Linked DNA regions of Homo sapiens: region 2 is linked to region 1. The links come from fine-mapping of genetic effects on gene expression. A gene starts in region 1. The other region holds a variant in brackets. All regions are shown on one strand. Distances are between the middles of the regions.

Evidence for each region. PIP is the estimated chance that this variant, and not a neighbour inherited with it, causes the effect. A credible set is the group of variants that fine-mapping cannot tell apart.
Region 2: its variant is the best candidate, but not a certain one, in a credible set for the expression of CATSPERE in skin (TwinsUK, PIP 0.69).

Annotation. Positions count from the first base shown.
Region 1 is chr1:244,458,484-244,463,483 of GRCh38, reverse strand. It overlaps CATSPERE (catsper channel auxiliary subunit epsilon), which reads right to left and starts at 2,211. Exons shown (of 22, transcript NM_001130957.2): 1 at 1,990-2,211. The coding sequence starts at 2,054. RefSeq lists a silencer at 1,961-2,310 and an enhancer at 2,585-3,784.
Region 2 is chr1:244,555,585-244,560,584 of GRCh38, reverse strand. All of the region lies in intron 9 of CATSPERE (catsper channel auxiliary subunit epsilon), which reads right to left. Among named protein-coding and RNA genes, the nearest start is that of DESI2, 95 kb to the left of the region's middle. The variant G/AG (reference allele first, on the strand shown) is at 2,447.

The DNA.
Region 1 (5,000 bases):
ACTGCAGCCTTGACCTCCCAGGCTCAAGTGATCCTCTCGCCTCAGCCTCCCGAATAGCTGGGACTACAGGCGCATGCCACCACGCCCAGCTAATTTTTGTATTTTTTAGTAAAGACAGGGTTTTGCCATGTTGCTGCGATGGAGGGTTCTTAATTCCCGTCTATCTGATTCATCTAACAGAGCACTGTCCAATATAATACAAGCCACCTCCTATTAATTAAAAATGTTCAAGTAGCTACTTTAAAAGCACAAGAAGAAATGGGTGAAATTAATTTTAATAATTTTTAGCTTTTAATTAAAACTAAACAAATTAAACTTAAAATTAATTAATTTTAAGTTTTATTCAACATGTAATCAGTATAAAATAATTATTACTGAGATATCTTACATTCTTTTTTCAGACTAAGTCTTTGAAATCTGGTGTGTACATTACACTTACACCACATCTCAATTTGGGCTATATTTCAAATACTCAAAAGGCACATGTAGCTGGTGACTATCATAAATCACCACCCTACAATTCCTTCGCCTTCCATTTGCTTCAAGAATCTATTCCATGTCTACATTGCATACCTAATTGCAACTGGAATTGCTCCATCCCTAAAGCTTTAAATCAGAGGCCTTTTTTCTGTATGTAGAGGAAGAGTTGCTAGGATATCATTATGCAATTCCCTTATCAGAATTATACAAGCCTTAATAGCACTCTGAATTCTTATGTTTAACGGAAATCAGTCACCTTTATAATGAAACACATTTTCTGTATATACAGATCGAATTAAAAAAAAGTCATGTATTTTACATATACCTATAAATAAAAATGAAATCTATTGTCATCAAAGGCTTTTTTTGAAGTGTGAACCACCTCACACTTCTTATGAATCTAAGATCCCTTTCAATACAGAGAGAAAAATACAAGTGGCAAATTTTGTACTTTAATTTACAAAGTTAAATTATGTAATTTAATAAGATCTGGTAGTGAAAGGATGAAATGACCTTTCCTGGCAGGCCTTTTCTCCTCACCTGCTCCCTCAACAGCTTCTCACTCCTACTGGGGCTAAGGATAGGCTAGGGAGAGAACAGTAGCTCAAAGAGTCACGTTTAATTTATTAATTTAGTCCCAGATAACAACGATAATACCTTTTCATCCTTGCTTTATTAATTATGTCTTATATTTAATGTATTCTTGTTGGAAACAGATCTAAGAGGCCCATAGGTGTGTGGGGTGTGCAGATGGACATGTGCTATTTTTTAATGAAAAGGGCACTGTTATATCTCACTCTTGGACCACAACGATCCTCTCCTCTGGCAAAAGAAGGCTGCACAAGGTGAGAGGAATGTAAGAATTCACAGGGGCCGGGGCGCGATAGCTCATGGCTCAGAGCTCATAGTCTGTAATTACAGCACTTTGGGAGGCCCCGGCAGGAGGATCACTTAAGGCCAGGAGTTCGAGACCAGCCTGGGCAATATTGTGAGACCCTGTCTCTACCAATTTTTTTTTTTAATTTAGCCAAGCGTGGTGGCGCGTGCCTGTTGTCACAGCTATTTAGGAGGCCGAGGTGCGAGGAGCGCTTGGGCCCAGGAGTTTCAGGCTTCAGGGAGCTATGATGGCGCCACTGCATTGCAGCCTGGGCAACGGAGCAAGAGGCCGTCTCTAAAACAAACAGACAACCCCCGCCCTAAACAAACAAAAAAGTAAGATTTCATTGGGGCTCAGATGTTCTGAGGACAGCAGCATGAAGGTACTGCGACCTTACTGCAGGAGCTGGAGCAGGGTAGCAAAGTGCTAACTGCGTCCCCTCTCGCTCATGGAAAACTCTCGGGTGGGAGCGGTGGGACACTGGGGCTGGTGTTGGGGAGCCAGGAGACGAGGCAGTGGTCGGCCAGGGCGAGCGGTCCCGAGGCGCATGGGGTGGAGAGCAGGACCCTCCCGCCTGCCCCGCCGGGGGTAATCCCCGCCTAGTCGCTCGCCTGCGACTGGCGTCTCTCTACCTCCAAAGGGCGGAGCCATAGCAGCTCAGCCACAGCAGCAGCACGGCCACTTCCCGGGCTGACATGGCGCCTGCTCCGCCTCCGCCCAACCGCCTCGGCCACTCCCGTCCAGGCCTCGCGCATTCCCGTGGGACGTCGGCCCGGCGGGCGGCTGCAGGCGCCTGGGTCCCGGCGCCTCTGGACAGGGCGGGCCGGGCCTGAAGACCAGCGAGGGAGAAGTGTGCGCGTGCGCGTGCGCGCCGCTACCTGGGCTCCCTAGAGGCCTGAAAGTAGCCGGAGTGCGAACCTGCACACGAGATTTTAGGAAAGGCAGAACCAGGCTTTCCAGCAGTGAGATAGCAAAAACACTTCGAAAAATCTGAGTTGCCAATTAAAAGAAAAAAAGAAGGAAGGAAGGAGGAAGGAAAGAAAAAGAAAAATCCAATTTGCCAGAAAGAATGTGAAACTTTTAAGGTAGTGTGTCTTTTAGCCCAAATCTTCATGTGACTGCGTATAGACACTGCAATAGCAAATACATATCTGGCAGTGCTTTCCAGGGAGCAGGCACGCCATAAGTGATTTTTGTTGTTGTTTGTTTTTGAGAGAGTCACACTCTGTCCCCCAGGCTGGAGTGCAGTGGCGCGATCTGGCTCGGCTCACTGCAACCTCCGCCTCCGGCGTTCAAGCGATTCTCCTGCTTCAGCCTCCAGAGTAGCTGGGATTACAGGCGTGCGCCACAAGGCCCTGCTAATTTTTGTATTTTGAGTAGAGACGGGGTTTCACCATCTTGCCCAGGCTGGTCTCCAACTCCTGACCTCAAGTGATCCACCCGCCTCAGCCTCCCAAAGTGCTGGGATTACAGGCGTGAGCCACCAGACCTGGCCAGGCACAGCATAAATGATTTTTATTTAATTAATTTATTTATTTATTGCAGGAGACTGGAGTTTTATTATTACTCAAATCAGTCTCCCCAAGCAATTGGGGAGCACAGTTTTTAAGGATAACTTGGTGGGTTGGCGGAAGCCAGTGAGCCAGGAGTGCTGATTGGTCAGGGGTGAAATCATAGGGAGTAGAAGCTGTCTTCCTGTGCTGAGTCACTTCCTGGGTGGGGCCACAAGATCAGATGAGCCAGTTTACTGATCTGGGTGGTGCCAGCTGATCCATCAAGTGCAGGGTCTGTAAAATCTCTCGAGCACCGATCTTAGGAGCGGTTTAGGGCAAGTCAGAATCTTGTATCCTCCAGCTGCATGACTCCTAAACCTGATTTCAAATCTTGTGGTTAATGTTAGTCCTACAAAGGCAATCTAGTCTCCAGGCAAGAAGGAGGTCTGCTTTGGGAAAGGGTTGTTACCGTCTTTGTGTAAACTATAAACTAAGTTTCTCCCAAAGTTAGTTCAGCTTATGCCCAGGAATGAACAAGGACAGCTTTGAGGTTAGAAGCAAGATGCAATCCGTTCAGTTAGATCTCTTTCACTGTCTCAATCATAATTTTGCAAAGATGGTTTCAATCCTTCCCTTTGGGTAGGCTATGAAGATGGGAGAAGGCCGTTGATAGCTCTGGCTTCTTCCTGCTGACAGGGGAGGTAATGGGAATGGGAGTGAACCCCAAGGTGAGAAGAGTGGAATTGCTTTGCAACTGTCTGAGCAACTCATGCAGGCCTGGTTGAGTTTCCAAGAGTTGCATGGCAAACACATTAGTACTCTCATCTATAGTTTTACTACAGTGTTTAAGTGAACAGCCTGCTATAAGGTAAATAATGAGTCCTAGTTTGAGGAGTACAATTCCCAATTTTAAAAGTAAAGATTTGAAAGCATTAGTCTGGGGACTTCTAACCCACAAATAATTTAGTGTGTAGTCTAAACTGCACAAGAAAACCTCAAGACCAGCTAACAACTGTATACTATAGTTTTTCTTTTGAAGCATAATTTTTCTCTCTCCAGTCCCCATTTTTATTCAAAACAAACCATGATAGAACCGATTTGTTTACAAAATAAACTTTAGTCTTACTGTACTTGGCCTGATTATTTGCATAAAGTGCAGCAAGAATAATTATTTTTCACTTAGGCTTTTTTCATTGGCTCTGATAGAACTCTGTTCCATGAAGGATCTCAGCTAAGACTTTTTAAAAGCCAAGCCCAGGCTGGGCGCGGTGGCTCATGCCTGTAATCCCAGCACTCTGGGAGACTGAAGTGGGTGGATCACAAGGTCAGGAGATCAAGCCTGTCCTGGCCAACAAGGTGAAACCCCATCTTTACTAAAAATACAAAAATTAGCTGGGCATGGTGATGCATGCCTGTAATCCCAGCTACTCAGGAGGCTGAGGCAGGAGAATTGTTTGAACCTGGGAGGCGGAGGTTGCAGTGAGCCGAGACTGAGCCACCGAACTCCAGCCTGGCGACAGAACTAGACTCTGTCTCAAAAAAAAAAAAAAAAAGCTGAGCCCAGCCTCAAATACCTATGAGTTGGTATTTGAAAATTCCTTTCCTCTTGAAGTCCCAAGATAACTTGGAGTTCCTGGGCCTGTTAAAAAGTGACATTCTTTACTTACCACAGGTCAGGAACCTTGCACAGACACTCTGTGTGGACAAGGTATGAGGCCAGATTCCCCAATGGGCTTTAATTGGCTCTATAAGTGAACTTTGATTCTTTAAAGGAAGCATGCCATTCCAGTCAAAGCCTTGGTAAAATAACCAATTTCTCCAATTGTGTTCTGTTACAAAAGAAAACAGATTCTTACTGCACTTATGCAATTAACTATACTGCCATAAATTGAGAATATTCACAAATAGTTTCCAAATTCTGGAGAAATCAGGTAGAGAGGAACAAATATGCTCTAAATTTTGTTCACAGGAGTATATTTTACTCACTTGTTAGAAGCTGCAAATAGCTCTAAAGAAATAAGTTCTCTCGACTCTGAAAACAAAAGGTTTAGCAATGTTTAACACATTAGCTCTCCATGAGAGTCCTAGAAGTTTGTTTTTTTTTCCTCCATTCCAATAGCACAATTTTTAAAGTTATCTGAGACCTGCAC
Region 2 (5,000 bases), 97 kb before region 1:
TATTTTTTATTTTTTTAAATTTTCTTTCAATAGGTTTTTGGGGAACAGGTGGTGTTATATGAATAAGTTCTTCAGTGGTGGTTTCTGAGATTCTGGTGCACCCATCACCTGAGCAGTGTACACTGTACCCAATGTATAGTCTTTTATCCCTCACCCCACTCCCATCCTGCCCCCCCACCCCCGCCCAAGTCTCCAAAGTCCATTGTATCATTCTTACGCCTTTGTGTCCTCATACCTTAGCTACCAAGGTCTAACAACTTCCATCTTCTAATTTGCTACATTTAAAATACAGAGACCAGGTGTGGTGGTTTCATGCCTATAATCCCTGCACTTTGGGAGGCTGAGGCAGGAGAATCACTTGAAGTCAGAGGTTTGAGACCAGCCTGGGCAACAAAATGAGACCCCATTTCTACAAAAGTTAAAAACTAGTTGGGGGTGGTGGCGTGTGTCTGTAGTCTCAGCTATTTGGGAGGCTGAGGTGGAAGGATCACTTGAGCCCAGGAGTTCAAGGATGCAGTGAGCCATGATCATGCCACTGCACTCCAGCCTGGGTGACAGAGCAAGACCCTGTCTCTAAATAAATAAATAAATAAAAATTAAAGGTAGTAAATACTAAGGTTTGATTTGTTTCAATATATTTTTGAATAATACTTCAGGCATAGAAATATATTAAATAGAAATTGGTCATATTACATATAACCATAAAAATAAATTATCCCAATTATTTGTTTATAAATTGTTTCTATCGGTAGGACTAATAAATTTTAATTCCTTTTAAATCTTTTAAGCACATCAGCCTTCTCTTTGTGTATTTATCACTCTGGCCTGGAGTGTGCCTTTCACCTTGATGTTTACTAAGGTCAATATATAAAGTCTCTTCAAATATTAACTCATTTTTGGAATTCTAGATTCCTTGGTTATCAGATAAAGAGAAGAGAAACTTAAAGCCTTAGACAAATGAATTCTACCCTTTCATGGATATAGGCTGCTAGTATTCAGAAACTGCTGTGCCTGAAACTTGGTGGGCCTAATTTCATCAAGGAGTCCAAGGCCTCCCTTCTCCTCTGCCTCCTCTCCCCACTGTTTCTAATTTTTTGGGATTTTTACTTGAAATGTAATTTCTATGTACATGACAATCAAAAGGAATCTTTTGAAAACATCTTGTTGTCCTCATTTTACTTAATGTACAAATATTTAGTGTATACTGAAACAGGAGGTCGGCAGATATCAAACTGGTAACCAAAGAAAGACACAATTTGGGATAAAAGGTCATTTTGCTAAATGTGGATTCACGTTAAAGTATAGAACTTATGTTGCTGGAAACAATTCTTAAAGAAGAAATAGATTAGAAACAAAATGGTGAGCTATAGAAGAAACCCACAGCCATTCTCATTCTTGTCAGAGAGATGGGAAGAGGAACACGTCATAAACACGATAGATAAGAATTCCAAGGATTCCCAGCCAAGAAGTGAGTTTTCACTCTCACTCACAAACCCTTTCCCACGTAACTCCACTTAATGCTTCGGCATAATCGTGCAGGTGAGGTGAGAGATCCTTTTGAAGCATTCAAGGTCTCTTCAAAATGTAAGGTAGTAAGTCTTTGAAGGCAGGAAAGGGGCATCAAGCTGGACAAGTTGAGAGAAACCCATCCACACTCTGGATTCTCAGCTCTGTGACTAGGAGTGGGGTAAGGGAGTGGAGAGGAACTCTCCTTGAGCCATGTGTGGCCTCTACCCAGAGTGTAAAGCAGCTTCCCTGACAGAATTGGGACAGAGAAATAGGAGACAGAAGGAGAGGGAGAAGGAGAAGGAGAAGGAGAGGGGAGTGCAGAGTGGGCAGGAGGAGAAGGGGAGGAAGAGAGGAAGATACACCAAAATTCAGAGTCAGATGAGAAAGTAAAGTTAATTACCCAATGACCAAAAAGCTGGAAGCTAAGTTGTAAAGCAGAGATAGCTCTCCCAAGGATTTCGAAGGTTGGTGGCACCACTGTGAAGTACTAAGAGGTCTCTGGAATGTTGTCAGTGATAAGGTGCCCAGAATGTCTAAAGAGAAAATAACTATAATAAAAATGCTGAAGGTTTCAGTGGAAAAGATGGGCAACATAGTGAAGAGATGAGGAATTTCAGCCAAGATATAGAAATGATAAAAAAGGAACAAAATGGAAATGCTAGAAATAAAACAAAAATCAAGAATAAAGAAATAATTGGAGGAGTTTGAGACCAGCCTGGCCAACATGGCAAAACCCCATCTCTACTAAAAATACAAAAATTAGCCATTAGCTGGGCATGGTGGCACGTGCCTGTAGTCCCAGCTACACGTGAGGCTGAGGCAGGAGAATCAACTTGAATCTGGGAGGCGGAGGTTGCAGTGAGCTGAGATTGCGCCACTGCACTTCCAGCCTGGGCAACAAGAGTAAAACTCCGTCTCAAAAAAAAAAAAAAAAAAA[G/AG]AGAGAGAGAGAGAAATAATTGGGCCTGGGCATGGTGGCTCATGCCTGTAATCTCAGCACTTTGGGAAGCCAAGGTGCGAGAATTGCTTGAGGCCAGCAGTTTGAGGCAGCAGTGAGTTTTGATTGTGGCATTGCACTCCAGCCTGGGTGGCAGAGTGAGACCCTGTCTGAAAAAAACTCAGATGCACTTACCAAGAAGCTGGAAAAAGCAGAGGAAAAAAGCAGTGAACATACAAGTGTATACAAGCTGAAATACAAAGGAAAAAACAGTGAAAAAATAACGAGCAGGTCATCTGAGATCTATGAGACAATATTAAATGGTCTCATACAGGTGTTTTTGGAATCCTAGTAGGAAAGGAAAAAGAAAATGAGGTTGAAGAAACATCTGAAGAGAAAATAGCCATTGACATTCCAAGATTAATGAAAGACATAAACCCAGAAATCCAAGAAACTCAATTGAACCTCAAGTAGGATAAATACAAAGGAAATAACATCTAGGCACATAGTAAAACTGCTGAAAACCAGAAAGAAATTTTCCAAGAACCTGGGAGATTTTATATATATATATATATATATATATATATATATATATATATATATATATATGAATATTTCAAATAAAATTATATATACATATATATAAATAAATATATAAAAGAATAAAATACTTAGGAATAAATTTGACCAAGAAGGTAAAAAATCTGTACACTGGAAACTATAAGATATTAATGAAGGAAACTGAAGAAACACATATAAATGGAAAGATATCTCATATTCTTAAATTGGAATAATTACTATTGTTAAAATGTCCATAATAATACCACCTTCTATAGACTCTGATTAACAGAGTCAATGTAATCTCTATCAAAATTCCAAGGGCATTTTTCACAGAAATAGAAAAAACAATCCTAAAATTCATATGGAACCATGAAAGACCCTGAGGAGCCAAAGCAATCTCGAAGAAGAACAAAGTTTAAAGCATCATAGTTCCTCATTTCAAACTACATTACAAAGCTATAGCAATCAAAACAGTGTAGTACTTGCTGAAAAATAGACACATAGGCCAACAGAACAGAATAGAGAATCCAGAAGTAAACCCATGCATATATAGCCAACTAATCTTTCTTAATAATGCAAAGAACACAATCCAGATAGAAGAGTCTCTTCAATAAGTGGTGTGGAGAAAAACAGGATATCCACATGTAAAAAAAAAATTCTTTTATGCTGTAATTAATAAAATTGCTTTCTTACTTTCTCTTTTGTATAGCTTGTTGTTAGTGTATAGAAATGCAACTAATTTTTTTATGTTGATTTTGTAACCTGCAGCTTTACTAAATTTATTTGTTAGTTCTAACAGTTTGGGGAAAAAAAGAGAAAGAAAAGGAAAAAAGAAGGTATAAAAATTGAAATTGTACTAGTTATTAAAATTAACTCAAAATGGATTAAAAACTTAATGTAATATCTGAAACTCTCAAATTCCTAGAAGAAAACACAATAAACCACCTTGACATTGGTCGATATGGTCTGGATCTGTTTCCCCTCCCAAATTTCATGTTGCATGTTATAACTTCTTCCAGTGTTTTACTTTTAGTCCACCTATCTCCTTATATTTAAAGTGGGCTTCTAAATAAAAATGTATAATTTGGTCTTTTAAAAAAAAATCCAATCTGACAATCTCTGCCTTTTAATTAGTGGTTTTAGACCATTTAGATTTAATGTAATTATTGTTGTGTTTAGACTGAGTTATACATTTTATTTTCTATTGTATCCTCAGGGTTTTGTTCCTCTATTTCCCTTTTCTGCCTTCTTTTGGATTTTATAATTTTTTTCATATTTCATTTTAGTTCATTGAATTTTTTACTCTATCTTGTATAAATTTTTTTAGTGGTTGCTATCAGGGTTACAATACATCCACTTAAATTTATATATATATATTCTTTAGAGAAAGTGTCTCATTCTGTCACCCAAGCTAGAGTGTAATGGTGTGATCACAGCTCACTGCAGCCTTGAACTCCTGGGCTCAAGCAACCTTCCCACTTCAGCATTCCAAGTAGCTGGGACTACAGGTGTAGGCCACCTCACCAGATTAACTTTTTAAATTTTTTATTTGTAGAGAACAGGATTTTGCTTTGTTGCCCAGGCTGGTCTCAAACTCCTGGCTTTTAGCAATCCTCCTGCCTTGGCCTCCCAAACTGCTGAGATTACAGGTGTGAACTATTCTACTCAGCCTTATCAGTGTTTTGTAGTCTTCCTTGCAGAGATCTTTCACATCCTTTGTTAAATTTATTCCCAGTTTTTTTGGTAGGTATTGTAAATAGGAGTGCTTTCTTGATTTATTTTCCAGCTATTTCATTATTAGTGTATAGAAATGCTGCTGATTTTTGTATGCTGATTTTATATCCTTCAACTTTACTGAATTTATCATTTCCAAGAAATTTTTTGTGGAGTCTTTAGGTTTTTCTAAATATAAGATCATATTATCTGCAAAAAGGGACAGTTTGAATTCCTCTTTTCCAATTTAAATGCCTTTTATTTCTTTCTCTTTACTGATTGC